Regions from separate parts of the Homo sapiens genome. Here all the other regions are linked to region 1. Evidence: fine-mapped expression QTL. A gene starts in region 1. Each other region holds a variant in brackets. All regions are shown on one strand. Distances are from middle to middle. Region 1 holds the start of SNHG26 (small nucleolar RNA host gene 26). Region 2 has its middle 56 kb from the start of STEAP1B-AS1. Region 3 has its middle 28 kb from the start of TOMM7. Region 4 overlaps LOC107986776 (a long non-coding RNA gene). Region 5 overlaps STK31 (serine/threonine kinase 31).

The links. PIP is the estimated chance that this variant, and not a neighbour inherited with it, causes the effect.
Region 2: its variant is fine-mapped to the expression of SNHG26 in whole blood (INTERVAL, PIP above 0.99).
Region 3: its variant is fine-mapped to the expression of SNHG26 in spinal cord (GTEx, PIP above 0.99).
Region 4: its variant is fine-mapped to the expression of SNHG26 in whole blood (TOPMed, PIP above 0.99).
Region 5: its variant is fine-mapped to the expression of SNHG26 in subcutaneous fat (GTEx, PIP 0.94).

What each region holds. Positions count from the first base shown.
Region 1 is chr7:22,851,064-22,856,170 of GRCh38, reverse strand. It overlaps SNHG26 (small nucleolar RNA host gene 26), which reads right to left and starts at 1,931. Exons shown (of 5, transcript NR_146320.1): 1 at 1,891-1,931. RefSeq lists enhancers at 927-1,156, 948-1,559 and a silencer at 1,657-2,116.
Region 2 is chr7:22,617,053-22,622,159 of GRCh38, reverse strand. No RefSeq gene overlaps it. Among named protein-coding and RNA genes, the nearest start is that of STEAP1B-AS1, 56 kb to the right of the region's middle. The variant A/G (reference allele first, on the strand shown) is at 2,378.
Region 3 is chr7:22,792,169-22,797,275 of GRCh38, reverse strand. No RefSeq gene overlaps it. Among named protein-coding and RNA genes, the nearest start is that of TOMM7, 28 kb to the left of the region's middle. The variant C/G (reference allele first, on the strand shown) is at 2,793.
Region 4 is chr7:22,877,589-22,882,695 of GRCh38, reverse strand. The region is part of intron 3 of LOC107986776 (a long non-coding RNA gene); the gene reads left to right. It also overlaps the pseudogene RPL12P10. Among named protein-coding and RNA genes, the nearest start is that of SNORD93, 24 kb to the right of the region's middle. The variant T/G (reference allele first, on the strand shown) is at 2,231.
Region 5 is chr7:23,822,646-23,827,752 of GRCh38, reverse strand. The region is part of intron 23 of STK31 (serine/threonine kinase 31); the gene reads right to left. Among named protein-coding and RNA genes, the nearest start is that of STK31, 110 kb to the right of the region's middle. The variant C/G (reference allele first, on the strand shown) is at 2,696.

The DNA of each region.
Region 1 (5,107 bases):
GGCTGAGTTCAGGGGGCTGGGAAGTTTCTAGTTCTGGGCACTTGCTCAGTTTTCACAATCCTTAGACGCTAGCTCACACTGCTTCCTTGACATGGTGTCTCTCACAGTTTAAACTGAATAGTTAAAAAACAATTTGGCAGGCCGGGTGCGCTGACTCACGCCTGTAATCCCAGCACTTTGGGAGGCTGAGGCTGGCGAATCACCAGCTCAGGAGTTCAAGACCAGCCTGGCCAACAAGGTGACACCCCGTCTCTACTAAAAAATACAAACAGTTGGGCATGGTGGCGGGCACCTGTAATCCCAGCTACTCAGGAGGCTGAGGCAGGAGAATTTCTTGAACCCGGGAGGCAGAGGTTGCAGTGAGCCGAGATTGCGCCGTTGCACCACAGCCTGGGTGACAGAGCGAGTCTCCGACTCAAAAAAATAAATAAAATAAAATAAAAATAAAATGGGCTCAATAAGAATCTCTAACACCTAAAGCAATGGTAAAACAAAGCCTTACCACCGCTATCTTCCTGTGCTGTATATAGGGCTATTCGCCAGAGCTGGAGGTATTCCAGGGAGGGAAAATTGTCCATGCTCTGGGTCTATCTATAACGCTGGATAAAAGATGCCTAGAACCTAGGCTGCAAATGTACAAGCTTTCCTCATTAAAGAATGGTAAAATGGGTCCCATTTGGTTTCATCAAAAAGGCAGCAAATCTTTCACAACTGAGGAAAACAGGTGAACCACGAGCTTCACATTCCAACAGAACTGTGGTACCTATGCTAGCCACAAAGATTATTTGTTGACTCAAATGTAAATTTAGATCTTTATCAATTTTACTAAATTCGCAAAGTATCCCTTTATATAGCATTTTGTACCAGTAATGAACAATTAGTATGCTCAGCGATGCTCAGGAGAGCCGCTCCAAAAACTTACATTATTCCCCAGACAAACGTTCTCTAGGGGCAGCCTTGCGTATTTCTACACCTTAGTAGACCTAAGTTAGGCGTTCAACACCTTGTCCTGGTCCAAGCCAGAAAGAACCCAGTAGTTCAGACTTTTCCCAGGTCAGAAAACCACGAAGGGCCTCCTCACACCCTGATTAAACGTTGGAAGCGGGCCCTGTGCTGTAATAACGCTCTGGCCACTCCCAAAAAAGCGAATCTTCGGGAGGAAAGCAGGCTCCCTTATTAGGGCTCACAGCACTCCGCTCAACTTACTGTAGGCGTCGGCTCCAGCAAGACTCGTCCCTCCAAGCCTTTAAATTATCTGACTGCGGGCCAGTAGCAAATGAACGGCACTGGTGGCGGTGGGGGATGGCTGCGCGAGTGAAATGACCTCCGTGTGTTTGCTAACCCCGCTATTATACTGCCCCGCTTAGAAACTTAAAGCGCTTCAGACATCAGATCTCACTCGCTTCCCAAATAGGCTTCCGTCCGCGCGGTCACAGCCCCTGGGCAGGCAGGAGCCCCGAGTGCACCAAGAACCCAGAGACCGTCCGGGGCTCGGCGCCTCCGCCTGCGGTTGGAATTTGATCCTCAAAATGCAATCATTTAATTGAAAAAGGACTAAAAGCTGCCTGTAGGCCGAATGCGTGGACGGCAGGGACTCAGGCACGGGAGGTGACGGGCGCCTGGCGGCTTCTGCTGAGTGGGGGTGGGATCCTCGAGGAAAGGGGGCGGCCCCTTCAAGCGCACAAGGACACGGGCCGTCCTAACCCGGGACGAAGGGCCCAAGCGCCACGAGGACGCCCCCACCCCCGAGGGGCCCTAACGGAGGCTTCCCCGCGGCGCCGAGCCGAGGCCTCGGCGTGGGGGCAGCGAGAGGCGCGCCTAGGAAGCGCACGGGGTAGCCCCGGAGCCACGTGGTCGGCTCCTGCGTCCAGAAGGTCCGAGCCCACTTACCCAGTCACGCGCCGCGGCCGAAAAGGGAGGGCACTGCGGAGATCAAGTTTAAAAGGGGCCTGGGCGGGGCGGCACCAACCAAAAAGTTGCCGGAAGGCCCCTCCGGGTCCAGCACCCGCCCCGCCCGCGGGGCCCGGAGGCCCTCGCGCGCCCCCTGTCGGCGGCCCGGGCCTTCCCCGCCTTGGGCCCCCCCCCCCACCCCACACGGCCCCGGCTCCCACTTGGCCCCGGCTCCCACTTTGCCCCGGCCTCCGAGTCTGGGGAGTCTGCCCCAAACTCTCGCTGGCTGTGATGTCTCTTTACCTCGTTGAAGGTCAGAGGAAGCTCCTGCCACTCAAATAATGTTAGGTGTCTCTGGTACCCACTCCCCTCCCTTGCCTGGTGTTTCTTAAAGTCTTCAGCCACGCCCCTGGGTGCTTCTTTCAAGACTCGTCTAATTACGTAGCAGAAGACTGGCTCCCGTTAAAGGATGTGAACATTAGCGGAGGTCGGGGGTGCAAACTCATCGAAGAGGGGTTGAAGCACGGGGAGGACTCCTGGTGCCTGGAGTGCTGCATGCTTAGAATGATGGCCACGGCCCGCAAATATCTTGCCCCCAAAGCACGTCTGTGTCATTGGACTGTGAGGAGGAAGGGGAGAAGGTATTCTGACTGCAGTAAAATAAGCAGGTCTGTTGGCTGGATGCCTAAGCAGCACTACATATAGAACATGAGTGTTAAGGACTGAATTTGTCCCCACTCCCAAAGACATTGAAGACCTAACCTCCAGCACCTGTGAATGCGACCTAACTTGGAAAAACTGCGTCTTTACAGATGTGGTCAAGACGAGATCATTGGGGTGGACCCTCCTAATTCAACATGACTGATGTCCTTATCACACGGTGTCAAAATGCCACTTGAAGACAGAGACACACGAAAATGTGGCGGGACAGGGGCAGATCAGAGTGATGCAGCTGTAAGCCCAGGAATGCGGTGGATTGCCGGCCACCACCGGAGAAAGGCTAGGAAGAGGCAAGGAAGGACCCTCCCCTGCAGATTTCAGAGGGAGCTTGGTGTTTGGTTCTGCTGACACTTTGATTTTGGACTTCTAGTCACAAGAAATGTGAGACAAAACATTTCTGTTAAGTCACCGAGTGCTTTGTTAAGGCATCCCTAGGGAATTAATACAAGGACTGTGGGGACTTTCCCTCTGCCGTTCTGTGTAAAATCTGGCCATAAAGACATTATTTGACTTCCCTTGTTTGACTGTAGGTCATAAGACCCCCATTCCAGAGGGAGTCCTGTCCCATACCCAGAAGGAAAGAGTGCATGCTCAGAGAGGCCAAGAAGAATCCAGACAGACAGGCCTTGCTGGGTTTTCTCCCTCTATTAGTCTTAGATCATACACTTTTTGTCCGATCACATTTCTACGTCACTGCCCATACTTTGTTGAACCTAGGCATAAAAATGGATAATTTCCCCTGTATCTTTGGGTCTTCATTTGAAGGATCCCGGGTATACACATTAAATACATTTATATGCTTTTTCTCCAATTAATCTGCCTTTTGCAAGTTGATTTTTTAGTGAACCTTAAGAGGGCAAAGGGAAAACTTTCCATGTTGGCCCCTACAGATTGCTCAGTGCAGCAAATACTTATTGAGTGCCTATTCTATGCCAGGTGCTGTGATTGGTGTTGGAGGGTGTGAAGTTCAATGAGAAACTGCCCCTGCACTAAAGTGAGGAATATAAAATGAGATTCACCCACTGATAGAAGCCCATGAAGAGTGCCAAGGGCACAGCATAAAGCCACAAAGCCCAGCCTGCTAAGGCTACAGGAAAGGCTTCCAGAAGGAAGAGGTACCTATTAGTACAATGAGTGTAGCATGACCAGCAGGAAACTCATATGCTGCATGAAATTTAGGAGAGGAAAGAAGCAAAGAGGCCAAGAGAGTTACAGAAAAATCATAGGATAATAGAGTGCAGGGGACTTTAATAGGTCATCTAGGATTATTCTCTGGTGGGTGGAGCTGGTCTTAGGGTGTTGTCATGCAGAGTTGCCATGATGGTGCAATGTAGGCTCCATGAGAACTCTGTTTCCTTCTCTACTGAATCCCCCGAATTCAGTGTAAACGCCTAGAATATATTTAGATAAGGGGAAAAACTCCTTATCTAAATATCCTTATCAGAGGAAGAGATTATTCCCCCAAAGCAGTTCAATATTCATACCATAAAACTCTTCAAGGCTGATAATGGGGCAGTAGTGGGGTTTTATCCCAGGCGGTAGCTTCCTTGGGTCACCTTGAGTGTGAATTTATTCCTGTATTCCCAGTACCTGGCCTAGGGCTTTGCACATTGTAAATGCTTGATAAAACCTACTGAATTTCCTTTTCTTGCTGTCCATTTGACTTGTCTTTCACACATGTGGTGAACTACAGATATTCCCTGACTTACAATGGTTTGATTTATGTTTTTTTTTTTTTTTTTTACTTTGTGATGGTGCAAAAGCAATACGTAGCTCAGTAGAAAGTGTGCTTCAAGTATCCGTACAACCATTCTGTTTTTCACTTTCGGTACAGTGTTCAATAAATTACATGAGATATTCAACACTTTATTCTAAAATAGGTTTTGTGTTCAATTGTTTTGTCTAACTGTAGTGTAATGTAAGTGTCCTGAGCACATGTGAAGTAGACTAGGCTAATGGGATAATAGTAGACTGGGATGTTCGGTAGGTAGGTGTATTAAATGCACTTTCAACTTACCATATTTTGAACTCACAGTGGGGTTATCAGAACATAAATCCATTATAAGCTAAGGAGCATCTATGCTTGGAGAGTAGGAATCCCAGGGCATTGGGAGGCGTTGTGCACTTCCCTGGCTTGTTTTGCTGCTGTTAGTGGGGAGCCTTTTCCCCCAGTCCCATGCTTTTCTGTAGAGGAGCTTCTCCCAGACAATGCCCCGGGCCTTTTACTCATTCTTTCCTCATTCCTTTCCAGAGAAGGAAGGAATTTCAATACAATTCTGTGCCAACATGAATGCTGAAATCATGCAAACTGTGGTGGTCCTGTTGGCTTCCATCCTCTGCCTGTCACCTGTTTTCAAGGTGGACAGGTGCAGACTATTATTTCCTCTGTGGGACTAGGGGAAATGGGTGTGGTGAACTGCACCCAGCCATTTTTGTGTTTTTTCGATGGTCAAAGTGGAATTAAAAATAATGTCGCTCCCAGCACTTTGGGAGGCCG
Region 2 (5,107 bases), 230 kb after region 1:
GGTTCCCCCTTCTTGAGACATGTTCTTCTCTAGGCTTCTGTGCTACGCATTTATCTGGACTCCTTCAACTCTACTGGCCATTTCTCATCTGCTAGCTCTTCCTCCTTCATCAGACCCCCATCCTTGGCCTCTTCTTTTCTTTGTCAACGTTCTCTTTCTAGGCACTTTTACCCAGTCCAGGGACTTCACTGGACAGTGCAGATGTAAAACATTTCCATCCCTGAAGAAAGTTTGATTGTTCAGTGCTGGTGTAAAAAAAGAAAACAAAATGCCCTGTCTATTAAATGAAGCATACTTAAATCAGAAGCAATAAAAATAAAGAAAAATCAGGGACATCTGTGTGTGTGTGTATATGTGTGTACGTTTGTGTATATGTGTGTGTATGCATATGTGTGTGTCTGTACGTATGTATGTGCATGTGTCTATGTGTACGTGTGTATGTGTGTCCATATGTGTCTGTGTGTACGTGTGTGTGTGTGTGTGTTCATTAAGGAAAACACTTCTTTTGGTTGTGACAGAAAATTCAGCCCAAATTCTCATAAAAGAAAAGAATGTATTGGCTGATAGATGCTGAAAAGTTGAAAGATCCAGGGGAGCTTCAGGCACAACTTAAATTAGGGCTTAGCCAATGTCCCCAGGATTCCTCTCTCTGCTCCCCATCCTCTGAGCAGCTCCACTTTTAGCTCTATTGACTCCTCATATATAAAATATGTAAATATGTTTATATACATATGAATATATACATTTATGCAATCTATTTATATATATGTATATATGTGTGTATATATACATATATAAAGAGATTTATTATAAAGAATTGGCTCCCATGATTATGGAAGCTGACAAATGTCAAGATCTGCAGAGTGAGTCAGAAATCTAAAGACCCAGGAGAGCTCATGGTGCAAGTCCAAAGTCCAAGTCTGAAGGCCGGAGAACTGATGGTGTAGTTGCAGTCCAAAGGACCCAGGAAGAGCCACTGTTTCAGTCTGAAGATACTCAGACAGGAGGAATTCCATCTTACTTGGGAGAGGGTCAACCATTTTGTTCTAGTCAGGACTTCAACTGAAGGGTGAGGCCCACCCACATGAGGGGGACAATCTGCTTTACTCAGCCTACTGATTCAAATGACAATCTCATCCAAAAACATCGTCACAGAAACACTCAGAATAATGTTTGACCATCCCGTGGCCCAGTCAAATTGATATATAAAATTAACCATCATGGTTTCATTGGACCTCATTTGTCCAAGGTGCTTTTTGACCGCTAAAGCCCAAATACAGGGTCGTCTATATATGGGTTGTGAATAGAGGTAAGATAGTCCCTACACAGGAGAATTTGAGGACTATTGCCCAAGAAGATAAGTGGAAGCTAGGGGCAATAAACAAGTGTCTACTACAAGCTGCAGATTTGAAAGTTAAAGTGAGAACGGAACCAAAAAAATGTTGAGTGACTGCTATAAACTAGGCACTGTCCTAAGCACTTTATATTACCACTGAGCTGATGGACTTATTGAAAAAGTTTGCTTGCAGCTTTTTCTTCCCCTGTAGATTTACAATGTAAAAATTCACATCCCTTATCCCCAACCCACAATAAGAAAAACTAGGATTATGTTTCTAAAGGTGTGAACTCTCCTTGCCCCCTTGGGGAGTAAACGCTTTTTAAAATGTAATGTTTCTGGTCAAGAAAGCAAATTTGCTGGGAGGTTGTAGGCCACTTTGGAGACAACTCTAAGAACACTTGTCTTCTTTTTTTTCTTCCCTTTTAGACTAAATTCCTGATTTACCTAGCCAAAGATTAAAAAACACAGTAAAGTGAAGAGGAAGAGTTTGTGTAAGATCGATATTATTTATTTCTTAAATACGTGTAAAGATTCACCATTGAAGCCCTTGTGAAAAGAGTTTTAATTTCTTTCAATTCCTTTAATAGATATAAACTATTCAACTCCATAGACATAGAACAATTCAATAGGTAGATTCAATTTCTTTAACAGATATAGAACTGTTGAGATTTTCTATTTCTTCTTGTGTCCATTTTGGAGTTTATTTTTAAACAATATTTTATCTATTTTATCTCAATTTTTAAAATTAAGTGACACACGATTGTTTATTAAATGTCTGTAGTGATGATTTTCCTTTTATTCCTGATATTGATAATTTGTGTTTTCTCTCCCTCTTTTTCTTGATCAGCATTAATAAGGACTTATAAATTGTATTACTATTTTCAAAGAACTAACTTTTGGCTTTGTTTGCTTTCCCTGTAATATGTTTTTTAATCTATTAATTCTGCTCATTAATATTTTTTCTTCTGTTTTCCTTGGATTAAATTTGTCTGAATTAGGCTTATTGATTTTCAGTCTTTCTTTTTTCTCTCATCTTAA[A/G]TATTCATTTGCATTTGGAACTGTAAATTTCCTTTTTGGCATCACTGTTTAATATGTCACTTTTATTGTTATTTTGCTCATATTTTCTAATTTTATTTGATTTTTTGATCCTTGAGTTATTTAGAAGTATGTTGCATAATTTCCAAATATTTCGGAGATTTTCTAATTATCGTTCTCTGATTTATTTATATTTTAATTCTATTGTAGTCAGAGAACATATTACATATAATTTGAATCCTTTGAAAAAAAAGTTAAGACTTCCTCTTAGGCTAACATACAGTGTATTTGGCAATGTCTGCTATTAGCACAATGACATCAGCTATCTTTTGGTTAGTGTCAAGGTGATATATCATTTACCATCTTTTCATTCTCACCCTTTCTGTGTCTCTCTATATAGTAATTATTGTCTGTAACATGTAGTCAAGTTTTAAAAATTTAATCTAACAATCTTTAAAAAAAATGTTATTGTTTGGCTTATTCATATGGAATGGAATTACTGATATAGTTGGGTTTAAGTCCACTATCTTGCTATTTATTTTTTATCAGTTCATCTGTTCTTTGCTCATTTATTCTTCTTTTCTAGTCTTCTTTTGGATTAATCAAGCATATTTTATTATTTCATTTCTCTACTTACTATATGGTTAGTAATAAATTATGTTATTATTTTATGATTTCTCTGGAGACCATAATATGCATTCTTGACATAATACTCTTCCTCTGGCCTTTGTGATATTGTCACATATTTTGTTTATATGTTATAATTTCAACAAGACATTATTATTCTTGTTACATGAAACAATAATATTTTATTTTTACCCACATATTTACATTTTCTGAAGCTCTTTATTTCTTCTTTCAGTTTCATGCCTTTATATGATTGCTTTAAATTTTTTCTTTAATTGATTTTGTGGTGAAGATCTGTTAAAAATTCATTTTCATTTGGATGAAAATTTCTTTACTTTTCCTTCATTTTTGAATGATATTTTAAATAAGCATAAAGTTCTAAATTGACAATCTTTTATTTCAGCACTCTGAGATATTGTCCCATTATCTCCTGGCTTTCATAATTTATGTTGAAAAGTCAGCCATTCATTTTATTGTTGCTCCTTTGAAGTTAATGTATTTTTTCCCTCTGGGTACTTTTAAGGCTTCTTTTAATTCTTGATTATTAGAAGTTTGACAAAAATATGTCTAACTGTTGTTTTCCTTTTATTTATCTTGCTTAGAATTTGATGAGCTTCTTGAATCTGTTGAGTAATGTCTTATCAACTTTGGAAACATTTTGGCTGTTGTTTCCACAAATACTGCTTCTGCTCCCATTTATTTCTCCTTTTATTCCGGAACTTTAAATAAATATGGTATACCTTTTAACTATCTCGTATGCTCAGTTTTCTTTTTATACGTTCTTTTCATCTGTGCTTGGATTTGTATATTTTCTATAATCCTATCTTAAAGTCTAATAATTTTGTCTACTTCTCTGTCCAGTCTGCTGTTAAATGCACCTAATGTGTTTTTAAACTCAGGTGTTATATTTGTCAGTTAGAGAATGTACATTTGATTCTTTTACAAAGATTTAAATCTTTCTATATTCATTATCATTGCATCCATTTCCCCCATTTTCTTCTGTTTCATGTAGTATATTAATGAGTTTTTTAATAAAGTTCTCATCTGCCAGCTTCAATATTTGGCTTATCTGTGGGTCTGCTTCTATTGTTTATCTTTTCTCTTGATTATAATGATCAGTCACATTTTTTCTGCTTCTCTGCATGTCTAGTAATTTTTTTATTATAAACCAGACAATATAAATAGAAGCACTGCAGAGGCTCCAGTTGATGCCCTATACTAGAAAGGGCTTCCACATTCCTCTTTGGAAACACTCTTAGGATGAAGGTTTTATCTTCGAGCTGAATAGGGGCTAAGTTGCAGCTTTAGTAAGACTTAGTCCACTTCTGGTTTTTTTCTGTTCCTCAAACATAGCTATTCTGGACTTTTGATTACAGCCTGCAGGAATTCTGTCTTCTCAGTTCTGAAAGATTGTGGGGAATTTAGTGCTGTACGTTAGAGGTTTTGAACTTAGCTCTTTAGCCTTGCACCCCTTGCCCCATTACAGCTTCAAAATCTGGAAGATGTCCTAAACAGGGTGGCTGGCTGTGTGTTTGAATGGCAAGACTTCTTCCTTTAATTAGACTTTTTCCCCTTAGCACCATGAAACTAGAGGAGATTTTATTATGACTTTTTGAAGTCTTTAAACAAATGTCCCAGCCTTCTTTGCATAGCCCCTGAACCCAGAAGATGTCCCGGGGGAAAACCAGCTATGTGTTTAGCACTTACCAAATTTCTGGTTTCTCCCACCAGCCCCACGTGACTGCCAAAAACCTCTCTGGTTTCTCTTTCCCCAAGTAGATTCCTTCTTTATAAGTCAAGTCAAATTCTTAGTCCATGCCCAGAATTGTAAAATGTCCCCAGGGAAGAAAACAATTGGTGATTTATGTAGCCTTCATTGCTTCCTCATTTTCTGAGATTCTTAAAAATGTGACTTTCTTAATTTATCTGGTTCTTTATAATTGTTGCAATGGGAATTCTAGTCTGCTACGATCTTACTACGTTTTATTCAGGAACAGAAGTCCCCTGATCTTTATGTTTTAAGAGTAAAAGCCCACTAATATGGGTACGACTTCAAAGATTGAAAAGGGCTATGGCCTGCTTTCAGTACTTGGATTCCTGGAGGAG
Region 3 (5,107 bases), 59 kb after region 1:
TGGTACCAGTAGAGTGGGGCGCTGCTGAAAAAATACCCAAAACTGTGGAAGCGACTCTGGAACTGGGTAACAGGCAGAGGATGGAACAATTTGGAGGGTTCAGAAGAAGACAGGAAGATGTGGGAAAGTTTGGAAGTTCCTAGAGACTTGTGGAATAGCTTTGACCAAAACACTGATAATGATATGGACAATAATGTCCAGGCTGAGGTGGTCTCAGAGGGAAATGAGAAACTTGTTTGGAACTGGAGCAAAGGTGACTCTTGTTATGTTTGAGCTAAGAGACTGGTGGTATTTTGCCCCTGCCCTAGAGATTTGTGGAACTTTGAACTTGAGAGGGATGATTTAGGGTATCTGGCAGAAGAAATCTCTAAGCAGGAAAGCATCCAAGAAGTGACTTGGGTGCTGTTAAAGGTATTCAGTTTTAAAAGGGAAACAGCATAAAAGTTCAAAAAATTTGTAGCCTGACAAGGCAATAGAAAAGAAAATCCCATTTTCTGAGAAGAAATTCAACCTGGCTGCAGAAATTTGCATAAGTAATGAGGAACCAAATATTAATCACCAAGACAATGGGGAAAATATCTCCAGGGCATGTCAGAGAACTTTCTGTAGCCCCTCCCATCACAGGCCTGGAGGCCTAGGAGAAAAAAGTGGTTTCGTGGGCTGGGCCCAGCGTCCCGTGTTGTGTGGAGCCTAGGGACTTGGTGCCCTGTGTCCCATCTGCTCCAGCCATGGCTGAAAGGGGCCAACATAGAGCTCAGGCCATGGTTTCAGAGGGTGGAAGCCTCAAGCGTTGGCAGCTTTCATGTGATGTTGTGCCTGTGAGTGCACGTAAGTTAAGAATTGAGGTTTAAGGCTGGGCATGGTGGCTCACGCCTGTAATCCCAGCACTTTGGGAGGCTGAGGCAGGAGGATCACAAGGTCAGGAGATCAAGACCATCCTGGCTAACACGGTGAAACCCTGTCTCTACTAAAAAATACAAAAAAATTAGCCAAGCGTGGTGGCAGGTGCCTGTAGTCCCAGCTACTTGGGAAGCTGAGACAGGAGAATGGCGTGAACCTGGGAGGCGGAGCTTGCAGGGAGCCGAGATCGTGCCACTGCACTCCAGCCTGGGCGACAGAGCAAAGACTCCATCTCAAAAAAACAAAACAAAAAACACAAACCAAACAAACAAAAAAAGAATTGAGGTTTAAGAACCTCTGCCTAGATTTCAGAAGATCTACGGGAATGCCTGGATGCCCAGGCAGAAGTTTGTTGTAGGGATGGGTTCCTCATATGGACAGCCTCTGCTAGGGCAGTGCAGAAGGGAAATGTGGGGTGGGATCCCCCACACAGAGTCCCTACTGGGGCACCACCTAGTCGGGCTGTGAGAAGAAGGCCACCATCCTCCAGACCCCAGAATGATAGATCCACTGGCAGCTTGTACCACATGCCTGGAAAAGCCACAGATGCTCAATGCCAGTCCATGAAAGCAGCTGGGAGGGAGGCTGTATCCTGCAAAGCCACAGAGGCAGAGCTACCCGAGACCATGGGAACCTACCTCTTGCATCAGCGTGACCCGGATGTGAGACATGGAGTCAAAGGAGATCATTTTGGACCTTTAAGATTTGACTGCCCTGCTGGATTTCGGACTTGTGTGGGGCCTGTAGCCCCTTTGTTTTGACCAATGTCTCCCACTTGGAATGGGTACATTTACCCAGTGCCTGTACCTCTAAATATCTAGGAAGTAACTACCTTGCTTTTGATTTTATAGGCTCATAGGCGAAAGGGACTTGCCTTGTCTCAGATGAGACTTTGGACTGTGGACTTTTGAGTTAATGCTGAAATGAGTTAAGACTTTGGGGGACTATTGGGAAGGTGTGATTGGTTTTCAAATGTGAGGACATGAGATTTGTGATGGGCCAGGGGTGGAATGACATGGTTTGCCTGTGTCCCCACCCAAATCTCATCTTGAATTGTAACTCCCACAATTGCCATGTGTTGTGGGAGGAACCCGGTGAGAGATGATTGAATTATGGGGTCAGGTCTATCATGCATCGTTCTCATAATAGTGAATGAGTCTCATGAGATCTGATGGTTTTAAAAATGGGAGTTTCCCTATACAAGCTCTCTTTCTGCCTTCTGCCATTCATGTAAGACATGACTTGCTCCTCCTTGCCTTCCACCATGATTATGAGGCCTCCCCAGCCACATGGCACTGTAAGTCTAATTAAACCTCTTTTGTAAATTGCCCAGTCTCGGGTTTGTCTTTATCAGCTGTGTGAAAACCGACTAATACAACCACTAATAAAGAGTGAGCTATGGAAGGTCTGCAGCTCGCTGATGCTCCCTAATGCCTATTTAAGATGAGGCCACAGAAGATAGTGGACAAGAAACAACCTCAGAGGGCAAAACTAGAAGCCTCCAAAGGAGTTTCCCAGAGAGCACAACTGAAGGTCCCAGGTACTGCCTGGGAAGGAAGTCACTCTTCCTGCCCCATAAGATTTAATATTGCTGTAGACCAGTGACTATAGCAGGCTTTCCTTTCTCCCCTTTCCTGGTGGGCAGTTTCAATGTTTTAATCTTTTTTTTTTTTTTTTTTTTTTTCCTGAGACGGAGTTTCGCTCTTGTTGCCCAGGCTGGAGTGCAGTGGCGCGATCTCGGCTCACTGCAGCCTCTGCCTCCTGGGTTCAAGTGATTCTCTTGCCTCAGCCTCCTAAGTAGCTGGGATTACAGGCATGCACCACCGCACCTGGCTCATTTTGTATTTTCAGTAGAGATGGGGTTTCTCCATGTTGGTCAGGCTAGTCTCGAA[C/G]TCCTGACCTCAGGTGATCCGCCTGCCTCAGCCTCCCAAAATGCTGGAATTACAGGCGTGAGCCACTGCGCCTGGCCTCAATGTTTTAATCTTGCTCCTACTCCACCTTTGTATGTTGGGTAAGTTGGGGGCAGTTAACTCATTTTTAAGTTTTTTGATTGCTGGACCATGAGATGCTGTCTGTACCAGATGGAAGGTACATATTTCCCAGAGTTCCTGAACTTTGACCTGGATGCAGTATCTGGATGAAATTTGAGAACTGTATCCCTGGGAGAGATTCATTGTGTTCTGTATATGAGAAAGCGTGTATCAATATTTGGCAATCAAAGAAGTAGGCATGGCAGAGAATGTTAATTGCCTAACAAAAATCCATTTCTGTCGCTCTCTTGCAAAGTGTCACTTTTAGCTGGCTATGTGGCAACCAAGCTACAAGATTCCCAGGCTTGCTGTTAGATATAGCTCTATGACTAATATTTGATAATTGAGATGTAAGCAGAAGTGTTGTGTGGTACTTTGGGTAAGTCTTCCTGAAAGGGAAGTATGTTTCTTGAAATGGATGTGAAATGACTGGATGATAGCTATCTTGGATCAGGAGGAGAAAGGCCAGACTCTAGGAATGGCAGAGTGATGTATGTTTGGGAGAGTAGATCTCTGAAAACTCTAGTGAGAGCCCCTTTTGTCCATACCTTTGCTGAGTCATGTGTTATCAAACTTAATGGTCTTTCCAAACTGATGAAACATGGTGTTTTATAGATTTAGTTACTATTTTGCTTTGAGTGAGATGGAGAATCTTTTCATATATTTAAGAACCATTGTGTTTCCTTTAGCGCATTTTCTGTTGGCATGTTGGCCTTTTTCATATTGATTTATGGGTCCTTTTATTTATTTACTTTTTAAATGATAGAGAAGGGATCTTGCCATGTTGCCGAGGCTGATCTTGAACTGCTGGACTCAAGCAATCCTCCCACCTCAGCCTCCCAAAGTTCTAGGATTACAGGTGTGAGCCACCACACCCAGCCTGTAGATCCTTTTGTATTTTACAGAAATTATATCTGTGATATGATTGGTAGGTATTTTTCCAGTTTGTCGTTTGACTTTGATTAGAGCAAATTTTTTTTCCAAGCTTCTCTTGGTATATTTTGTTTTAAATTTTTATTTTATTTTATTTTTGAGACAGAGTCTTGCTCTATTGCCCAGGCTAGAATGCCCAGGCTCAAGGGATCCTCTCATTTCAGCCTCCTGAGTAACTAGGATTACAGGCACATGCCACTTCACACAGCTAAATTTTTGTGTTTTTTTGTAAATTTTTGTGTTTTTTGTAGGGATGGAGTTTTCCTGTGTTGCCCAGGCTGGTCTTGAATTCCTGGGCTCAAGGCGTCCTCCCACCTCGGCCTTCCAAAGTGTTAGGATTACAGGCGTGAGCCACTGTGCCCAACCAAGTTGTTTTTTTTTGTTTGTTTTTTTTTTTTGAGACAGAGTTTCGGTCTTGTTGCCCAGGCTGGGGTGCAATGGCATGATCCTGGCTCACCACAACCTCCGCCTCCCAAGTTCAAGCAATTCTCCTGCCTCAGCCTCCCAAGTAGCTGGGATTACAGGCATGTGCCACCACGCCCAGCTAATTTTTTTGTATTTTTAGTAGAGACGGGGTTTCTCCATGTTGGTCAGGCTGGTCTCAAACTCCTGACCTCAGGTGATCCGCCTGCCTTGGCCTCCCAAAGTGCTGGGATTACAGGCATGAGCCACTGTGCCCGGCCATAGCCACGTATTATTTTACATCCCACTCTCACCTGCTTTTTCTTATTAGAAAAAATAAGTTGCCTGGGAGAAAGGAGAATAAAAAGAGGAGTGAATGAGGGGAGTATCTCCCAAATAATATATTTAAGGTGACTGTTATTTTTTCTCTCTGTGTTTCAGTTTGGATATATTCCTCTGACCTGTCTTCAAATTAATTAATCTTGTTTTCTTTTGCACTGTGAATCCAGCTGATAAATTCTTAATTTCTGATATTGTATTTTACAAATATTGAATGTCTACTTAATTCTCTTTAAAAAAGATTCTAATTCTCTGATTTTATACTTCATCTTTTCATTCTCATTGTCAATCTTTACCCCTCTTTTCTTTAACATATTAATTATAGTTATTTTGAAGTCTTTCTAGCTAACTTCAATATCTGGATCATCTCTACCTGCTTCCATCTCTTGGCTACTAGTCACTTAAAAAGTAAAAATAAAAATAAAATTTTTTTTTTTTTTTTTAGAGATAGGGTCTTGCTCTGTCATCCAGGCTGGAGTGCAGTGGCACAATCATAGCTTACT
Region 4 (5,107 bases), 27 kb before region 1:
GCAGAGATGAGCACTCAGAACTGACAGCTGGATTGCACCCTGTGGGGGGTAATTGATGACCTTGTGAGGAGTAGATATGTTGAGAGATGGGGATGAAAGTTGTTCACAGTGGGTTGAGGGAGAATTGAAGCAAGAACAAATGATCCTTTCAAGATATAAAGGTGAGTAGAGAGCTGGGGTAGTAGCCAAGAGAAGAACAGGGAGGCCAAGAGAAAGTTATTGTTGCTGTTTTTGTTTTTTTGTGTTTTTTTTTTTTTGTTTGTTTTTCAAATGATCCTTTATTGAAATATTTTCCTTTGTGCTTCTTAATTAGCTGGGCATTCCACAGCACCACCGTTGATGTCATCTATGATATCATGAGGGTGGCAGCCATCAACATTGCAGCCCACAGACTGGGGAGTCCCCAGGATCTCTTTAATGATTCCAGAGAGTTCTCTGGCTAAAGATCGGTGCCACATGTGTTGAGCAACATTGACAATCTCATCAAAAGTGATATTTCCACTGTGTTTAATGTTTTTCTGTTTCTTTCTGTCTCTTGGCGGTTCCTTGAGGGCTTTGATGATCAGGGCAGAGGCAGAAGTCACCACCTCAATCTGGGCCTCTCTGTTCTAAATGATCAGTTTCACTGTAATCCTCAGATCCTTTCAGTCACCAGTTGCTTTAGCAATGTCATCACCAACCTTTTCTGAAGACAGACCTAGGGGGCTGATCTTGGGGGCCAACACAGACGTGGCACCCACTTCATCCCCAGTACACCTTAGGTATGTGACTTTGATCTCATTGGGGTAGAACTTCGGCAGCATGGCAGAGGTGGCTAGATTCAGGACGACCCAAGAAAGTTGCACCTTGGCCTCCTCCCAGCTGAAAGCTGAAAGCCTTGTTGCTGTTTTTTGAAGAGATTCTTGGAATAACAGCTTGTTTGTAAGACCTAGTAAAGAGAACGTTTGAGGACACATGAGCAGGGGGGAAGAAAGACTGGAGGGAAGAGGGATGTGGGGGGGAATTGGTCTGTGCCAGGAGCCTGGAGACAGGAGGAGTGGCAGAGCCCAGGGCCTGGGTGCAGGCAGGGGGGCAGGTGTGGGGATGAGAGCTCAAGGAAGTCCTCTCCCATGCTTTTTAGATCTTTAGTGACACAGGAAACACAGTCATCAGTGCAGAGTGAGTGTGGGAGAATTTTCAGGAGAGAAGAGAGGTCATTTAGGGAAGTGGGAATGTCAGTGGACACGAGAAATGCAGTCCAATGGCAGCCCAGCCCAAGGACCAACCTGGTGCTGAGACTTTGAAGGGAGACTAGCCAGTGAGGAGTGATCTTCTCCTGGCCAGACCCTCTACCCAGACTGGGCCAGATGGAAGATCCTGACACATTCCAGAGAATTCCTGCTGTGGCAGGCTAGCTCCCAAGAAGCTCTTTCCACCAGCCGATGGGCCAGTGGGGTTGGCTTGAGCAGACTGTGGTTCCAGCACTTTAATGCAGTTTCTGTCACTGGAGGATTTGTCCAGTGCTGGGGTGTGGAGTGACAGCAAAACCCTGATGCCTCAGGCATGGCTGAAGTGCTGAAGCACAGAGGGTGCACCTGGGGAGAGGCCACAGGGTTGGTGACCTCTGCGGGTGTGAATGACCCCAGGCACTGTTTCAGTGTTGGGGTGGGTGGCTGGGTAGTGCTCCTGTGTCAGGGGTTGACATGTCCAGAGTCAATGTCCTTCCTCAGTGCCATATGCCAACCTTTAGGTTCCAGAGGGCCTTTTGAGTGACCTGCCATGGTTCCTCCATGACTAGCTTCTGGGGTGATGGGGTGGCACCTCACCCTGTCTAAGCTGAAACTTATCACACTGGGTTGTAATTCATGGTCTATTTGCTGTTATCCCTGGGCTGTAAGTGTAAGAACCCTCTCCAACTTTCTTACCACTTTATCCCCAATGCCTGGCAAAATACCTAAATACATGAATACATACAAGAGGGCAGGTGAGAAGGAAGGATGGGAGGAAGGAAGAGGGAAGGAAGGAAAAAAGAAGGGAAAGAAAAGAAAGGAAGGGAGGAGGGGAGGAAGGAAGGAAAGGGTAGATATGGAATCCCTGCCACTATAGCAGGGCTATTCTGCTGAGGGTTGCAATGATGGATCTGAATCAGTGGTAGCCTCCATAGGGGATGTGGCGATGAGGTAGGGTAGAAGGCAGTGGGTGCCATAAAGAGGGCTTTCAGCAGGGCTCTCTAAAACCAGGAAGACACACA[T/G]GAGATTGCAGGGCATAACCAGGAAGACTGGGATGCCACTGCCTGGCCAGATGGGGGTCTGATCCACTCTCCTAAATGACCTCTCTTCTCTCCTGAAAACTTTCCCACACTCACTCTGCACTGATAACTGTGTTTCCTGTGGCACTAAAGATCTAAATCAGAACCGCATTTCTGACCCCCATTTATGACCCCCATTTCTGATGGGCATCAGAAAGGTGAAAATAAGGAGTGATGGTCAGGATGGGCAAGAGGAAGCAGGAAAGGAGTCCTGGCAAGTAGCTGAGACAGGCCCTGGCCCCCAGCTCTGTGGGGAAGGTGCAGGGTGAGTGTGTTGAAAGGCTGGAGAGGAGGCCGCCTGCAGCTGGGAATCCACAGAGGGCTGTATTAGTCCATTTTCACACTGCTGATAAAGACATACCTGAGACTGGGAAGAAAAAGAGGTTTAATTGGACTTACAGTTCCACATGGCTAGGGAGGCCTCAGAGTCATGGTGGGAGGTGAAAGGCTCATCTTACATGGTGGCGGCAAGAGAAAATGAGGAAGAAGCAAACGCAGAAACCCCTAATAAACCCATGAGATCTTGTGAGACTTATTCACTACCACAAGCATAGCGCAGGAAAGACTGGCCCCCGTGATTCAATTACCTCCCCCTGGGTCCTTCCCACAACACGTGGAAATTCTGGGAGATACAATTTGAGATTTGGATGGGGACACAGCCAAGCCATATCAGGGCACAGCAGCTTTGGTGATCCACCGCTCCTTCCTGCTCCTCCCAGGTAAAGGGGAGTCTCTCTCCAGACTTGATTCATCCCTTCCCTTTCTTATTCCTCTCCGACTTTCGCACCTTCCACCCCAACCTCTGGATTTTGTCTGCAGTTATCCTTTCTCTTTTCAATAGGCCTCTGTACCCACTGTTCTCCCAACCTGGAGAGCTGTCTCTACCCCTAATCCTCACTTGCTAGTTCAGTTCCTTCTTGGCCCTCAGATTTTGCCGTGGGGCAACTTCCTGCCATTTTTACATACTTTCATTGCATTCTGGGCTACTTCCTTTATGGCACATATATCAATGGAAATGCCTTGCTTATTTCTCTATTTCTAGACTTAAGAAAAGGGATACAGGTGGATATTTCCCTAGCGGTCCCTCAGTGACAAATGAATGAAGACAACTTTGTCAAAAGAAAACAAAATCCCTGAGAATCCCCTAACTTGGTGCCTGTATTTTTATCCAGCACTGGTGTACTCTCTAAAAGCAAATTCATGCTAAACAGCATTTTACTCTTTCTGATTAGCTGGCAAAATTTGCTCCAAATAAATAATGTATATATATTTATTGTTTAATAATGCTCGTGGTTTAAATACATGTGTTTTAGGAGCAACTTTGATTTACCTCATGAGTCCAAGATTTTTTATTTTTATAAGTTGTGCCTTATGAATGTGGGTAAGAGAGGAATCAAAATGAAATTAATCTTTTATCTTTGGATGGTTAAGAGAACTGCAATATTAAGGACATTAGGATGTCTCAAAATATTAGATGCAAAAATGTGTATTTTTGTTTAAATATGTTTGAATTATCAAATATAGAACAAATAGAGGAAGGTGGCTGGGTGTAGTGGCTCATTCCTGTAATCCCAGCATTTTGGGAGGCCAAGGTGGGCTGATCACTTGAGGTCAGGAGTTCAAGACCAGCCTGGCCAACATGGTGAAACCCCCGTCTCTAATTTATTTATTTATTTATTTATTTATTTGAGATGGAGTCTCACTCTGTCACGCAGGCTGGAGTGCAGTGGCGCTATCTTGGCTCACTGGAACCTCTGCCTCCCAAGTTCAAGCGATTCTCCTGCCTCAGCCTCCAGAGTAGCTGGGACTACAGGTGCACGCCTCCACGCCTGGCTAATTTTTTATATTTTTAGTAGAGATGGGGTTTCACCATATTAGCCAGGATGGCCTCGATCTCCTGACCTCATGATCCACCTGCCTCAGCCTCCGAAAGTGCTGGGACTACAGGTGTGAGCCACAGTGCCCGGCCAACCCCATCTCTATTAAAAATACAAAAATTAGCTGGGTGTGGTGGCGCATGACTGTAATCCCAGCTACTCAGGAAGCTGAGGCAGAAGAATCACTTGAACCCAGGAGGTGGAGGTTGCAGCAAGCTGAGATCATGCCACTGCCCTCCAGCCTGGGCGACAAGGGTACTCCATCTAAAAAAAAAAAAGCAGGTACATAAAAACATATGTGTTGGAATAAATATAATAAATAATTATAAAGGCTGGGTGTGGTTGCTCACACTTGTAATCTCAACACTTTGGGAGGCTGAGGTGGGAGTATTGCTTGAGCCCAGGAGACCAGCCTGGGCAACATAGTGAGACCCCATCTTTTTTATACATAAAAAAAAAATAACTGGGCATCCTGGTGCATGCCTGTAGTCCTGGCTACTTGGGAGGCTTGAGGTGGGAGGATCTCTTGAGCCTGGGAAGTTGAGGCTGCAGTGAGCTATGATTGCACCATTGCACTCAGCCTGGGAGAACGCGTGAGATCCAGTCTCAACATAATAATGATAATAATTTGTATATTATTTTATAAAATTTTTATTTTATTATTATTATTGTAGGAATACTTTGAAGCCTAAGATGGTGGCATCTTCCTTTAGAGATAACTTTAACTAGCTTCTACCAGATGCATAGTGGACACTAGTCATTTGGTAACACTTTAATCCATGTTCAAGGTTTGAGATTTCCTGGCCCATTGGGATGAGGCAGAACTGGACTACAAGTCCATGTGAGGGTCAGTTTACTTCAGGTTTACCCTTGCTTACATTTAGGATGTAATTACATGGGAATCTCAGCTTAAAATGGGAACTGGTTTATCTCAGTCCCCATC
Region 5 (5,107 bases), 970 kb before region 1:
ACCATCATCAAAGACCAAAGGTAGATAAAACCACAAAGATGGGGAAAAAACAGAGCAGAAAAACCGGAAACTCTAAAAATCAGAGCCTCTCCTCCGACAAAGGAACGCAGCTCCTCACCAGCAACTGAACAAAGCTGGACAGAGAATGACTTTGACGAGTTGAGAGAGGAAGGCTTCAGAAGATCAAACTACTCCAAGCTAAAGGAGGAAGTTCGAACCAATGGCAAAGAAGTTAAAAACTTTGAAAAAAATAAGACAAATGGATAACTAGAATAACCAATGCAGAGAAGTCCTTAAAGGACCTCATGGAGCTGAAAACCATGGCACGAGAAATACATGACGAATGCACAAGACTCAGTAACCGACGCGATCAACTGGAAGAAAGGGTATCAGTGACGGAAGATGAAATGAATGAAATGAAGTGTGAAGAGAAGTTTAGAGAAAAAAGAATAAAAAGAAATGAACAAAGCCTCCAAGAAATATGGGACTACGTGAAAAGACCAAATCTACGTCTAATTGGTGTACCTCAAAGTGACGAAGAGAATGGAACCAAGTTGGAAAACACTCTTCAGCATATTATCCAGGAGAACTTCCCCAACCTAGCAAGGCAGGCCAACATTCAAATTCAGGAAATACAGAGAATGCCACAAAGATACTCCTCAAGAAGAGCAACTCCAAGACACATAATTGTCAGATTCACCAAAGTTGAAATGAAGGAAAAAATGTTAACGGCAGCCAGAGTTTAGAAAGGTCGGGTAACCCACAAAGGGAAGCCCATCAGACTAACAGTGAATCTCTCAGCAGAAACTCTACAAGCCAGAAGAGAGTGGGGGCCAATATTCAACATTCTTAAAGAAAAGAATTTTCAACCCAGAATTTCATATCCAGCCAAACTAAGCTTCATAAATGAAGGAGAAATAAAATACTTTACAGACAAGCAAATGCTGAGAGATTTTGTCACCACCAGACCTGCCCTAAAAGAGCTCGTGAAGGAAGCACTAAACATGGAACAACAGGTACCAGCCACTGCAAAAACATGCCAAATTGTAAAGACCATCAAGGCTAGGAAGAAACTGCATCAACTAACAAGCAAAATAACCAGCTAACATCATAATGACAGGATCAAATTCACACATAACAATATTAATCTTAAATGTAAATGGGCTAAATGCTTCAATTAAAAGGCACAGACTGGCAAACTGGATAAAGAGTCAAGACCCATCAGTGTGCTGTATTCAGGAAACCCATCTCACGTGCAGAGACACACATAGGCTCAAAATAAAGGGATGGAGGAAGATCTGCCAAGCAAATGGAAAACAAAAAAAGGCAGGGGTTGCAATCCTAGTCTCAGATAAAACAGACTTTAAACCAACAAAGATCAAAAGAGACAAAGAAGGCCATTACATAATGTTAAAGGGATCAATTCAACAAGAAGAACTAACTATCCTAAATATATATGCACCCAATACAGGAGGACCCAGATTCATAAAGCAAGTCCTGAGTGACCTACAAAGAGACTTAGGCTCCCACACAATAATAATGGGAGACTTTAACACCCCACTGTCAACATTAGGCAGACCAACAAGACAGAAAGTTAACAAGGATATCCAGGAATTGAACTCAGCTCTGCACCAAGAGGACCTAATAGACATCTACAGAACTCTCCACCCCAAATCAACAGAATATACATTCTTTTCAGCACCACACCACACCTATTCCAAAATTGACCACATACTTGGAAGTAAAGCTCTCCTCAGCAAATGTAAAAGAACATAAATTATAACAAACTGTCTCTCAGACCACAGTGCAATGAACTAGAACTCAGGATTAAGAAACTCACTCAAAACCACTCAACTACATGGAAACTGAACAACCTGCTCCTGAATGACTACTGAGCACATAACGAAATGAAGGCAGAAATAAAGATGTTCTTTGAAACCAACGAGAACAAAGACACAACATACCAGAATCTCTGGGACACATTCAAAGCAGTGTGTAGAGGGAAATGTATAGCACTAAATGCCCATAAGAGAAAGCAGGAAAGATCTAAAATTGACACCCTAACATCACAATTAAAAGAACTAGAGGAGCAAGAGCAAACACCTTCAAAAGCTAGCAGAAGGCAAGAAATAACTAAGATTAGAGCAGAACTGAAGTACATATAGACACAAAAAACCCTTCAAAAAATCAATGAATCCAGGAGCTGGTTTTTTGAAAAGATCAACAAAATTGATAAACTGCTAGCAAGACTAATAAAGAAGAAAAGAGAGAAGAATCAAATAGATGCAATAAAAAATGACAAAGGGGATATCACCAGTGATCCCACAGAAATACAAACTACCATCAGAGAATACTATAAACACCTCTACGCAAATAAACTAGAAAATCTAGAAGAAATGGTTGAATTCCTCGACACATACACACTCCCAAGACTAAGCCAGGAAGAAGTTGAATCTCTGAATAGACCAATAACAGGCTCTGAAATTGAGGCAATAATTAACAGCTTACCAACCAAAAAAAGTCCAGGACCAGATGGATTCACAGCTAAATTCTACCAGAGGTAAAAGGAGGAGCTGGTACCATTCCTTCTGAAACTATTCCAATCAATAGAAAAAGAGGGAATCCTCCCTAACTCATTTTATGAGGCCAGCATCATCCTGATACCAAAGCCGGGCAGAGACACAACCAAAAAAGA[C/G]AATTTTAGACCAATATTCTTGATGAACATTGATGCAAAAATCCTCAATAAAATACTGGCAAACCGAATCCAGCAACACATCAAAAAGCTTACCCACCATGATCAAGTGGGCTTCATCCCTGGGATGCAAGGCTGGTTCAACATATGAAAATCAATAAACGTAATCCAGCATATAAACAGAACCAAAGACAAAAACCACATGATTATCTCAATAGATGCAGAAAAGGCCTTTGACAAAATTCAACAACGCTTCATGCTAAAGACTCTCAATAAATTAGGTATTGATGGGATGTATCTTAAAATAATAAGAGGTATCTATGACAAACCCACAGCCAATATCATACTGAATGTACAAAAACTGGAAGCATTCCCTTTGAAAACTGGCACAAGACAGGGATGCCCTCTCTCACCACTCCTATTCAACATAGTGTTGGAAGTTCTGGCCAGGGCAATCAGGCAGGAGAAGGAAGAAAGGGCATTCAATTAGGAAAAGAGGAAGTCCAATTGTCCCTGTTTGCAGATGACATGATTGTATATCTAGAAAACCCCATCATCTCAGCCCAAAATCTCCTTAAGCTGATAAGCAACTTCAGCAAAGTCTCAGGATACAAAATCAATGTGCAAAAATCACAAGCATTCTTATACACCAATAACAAACAAACAGAGAGTCAAATCATCAGTGAACTCCCATTCACAATTGCTTCAAAGAGAATAAAATACCTAAGAATCCAACTTACAAGGGATGTGAAGGACCTCTCCAAGGAGAACTACAAACCACTGCTCAATGAAGTAAAAGAGGATACAAAGAAATGGAAGAACATTCCATGCTCATGGGTAGGAAGAATCAATATCGAGAAAATGGCCATACTGCCCAAGGTAATTTATAGATTCAATGCCATCCCCATCGAGCTACCAATGACTTTCTTCACAGAATTGGAAAAAACTACTTTAAAGTTCATATGGAACCAACAAAGAGCCCGCATTGCCAAGTCAATCCTAAGCCAAAAGAACAAAGCTGGAGGCATCACGCTACCTGACTTCAAACTATACTACAAGGCTACAGTAACCAAAATAGCATGATACTGGTACCAAAACAGAGACATAGACCAATGGAACAGAACAGAGGCCTCAGAAATAATACCACACACCTACAACTACCTGATCTTTGACAAACCTGACAAAAACAAGCAATGGGGAAAGGATTCCCTATTTAATAAATGGTGCTGGGACCACTGGCTAGCCGTATATAGAAAGCTGAAACTGGATCCCTTCCTTACACCTTATACAAAAATTAATTCAAGATGGATTAAAGACTTACATGTTAGACCTAAAACTATAAAAACCCTAGAAGAATAACTAGGCAATACCATTCAGGACATAGGCATGGACAAGGACTTCATGTCTAAAACACCAAAAGCAATGGCAACAAAAGTCAAAATTGACAAATGGGATCTAATTAAACTAAAGAGCTTCTGCACAGCAAAAGAAACCACCATCAGAGTGAACAAGCAACCTACAAAATGGGAGAAAATTTTTGCAACCTACTCATCTGACAAAGGGCTAATATCCAGAATCTACAATGAACTCAAACAAATTTACAAGAAAAAAACAAACAACCCCATCAAAAAGTGGATGAAGGATATGAACAGACACTTCTCAAAAGAAGACATTTATGCAGCCAAAAAACACATGAAAAAATGCTCATCATCACTGGCCATCAGAGAAATGCAAATCAAAACCACAATGAGATACCATCTCACACCAGTTAGAATGGTGATCATTAAAAAGTCAGGAAACAACAGGTGCTGGAGATGATGTGGAGAAACAGGAACACTTTTACACTGTTGGTGGGACTGTAAACTAGTTCAACCATTGTGGAAGTCGGTGTGGCAATTCCTCAGGGATCTAGAACTAGAAATACCATTTGACCCAGCCATCCCATTACTGGGTATATACCCAAATGATTATAAATCATGCTGCTATAAAGACACATGCACACATACGTTTATTGCGGCACTATTCACAATAGCAAAGACTTGAAACCAACCCAAATGTCCAACAATGATAGGCTGGATTAAGAAAATGTGGCACATATACACCATGGAATACTATGCAGCCATAAAAAAGGATGAGTTCATGTCCTTTGTAGGGACATGGATGAAGCTGGAAACCATCATTCTCAGCAAACTATCGCAAGGACAAAAAACCGAACACCACATATTCTCACTCACAGGTGGGAACTGAACAATGAGAACACATGGACACAGGAAGGGGAACATCACATACCGGGGACTGTTGTGGGGTGGTGGGAGGGACAGCATTAGGAGATACACCTAATGCTAAATGACGAGTTAATGGGTGCAGCACACCAACATGGCACATGTGTACATATGTAACAAACCTGCACGTTGT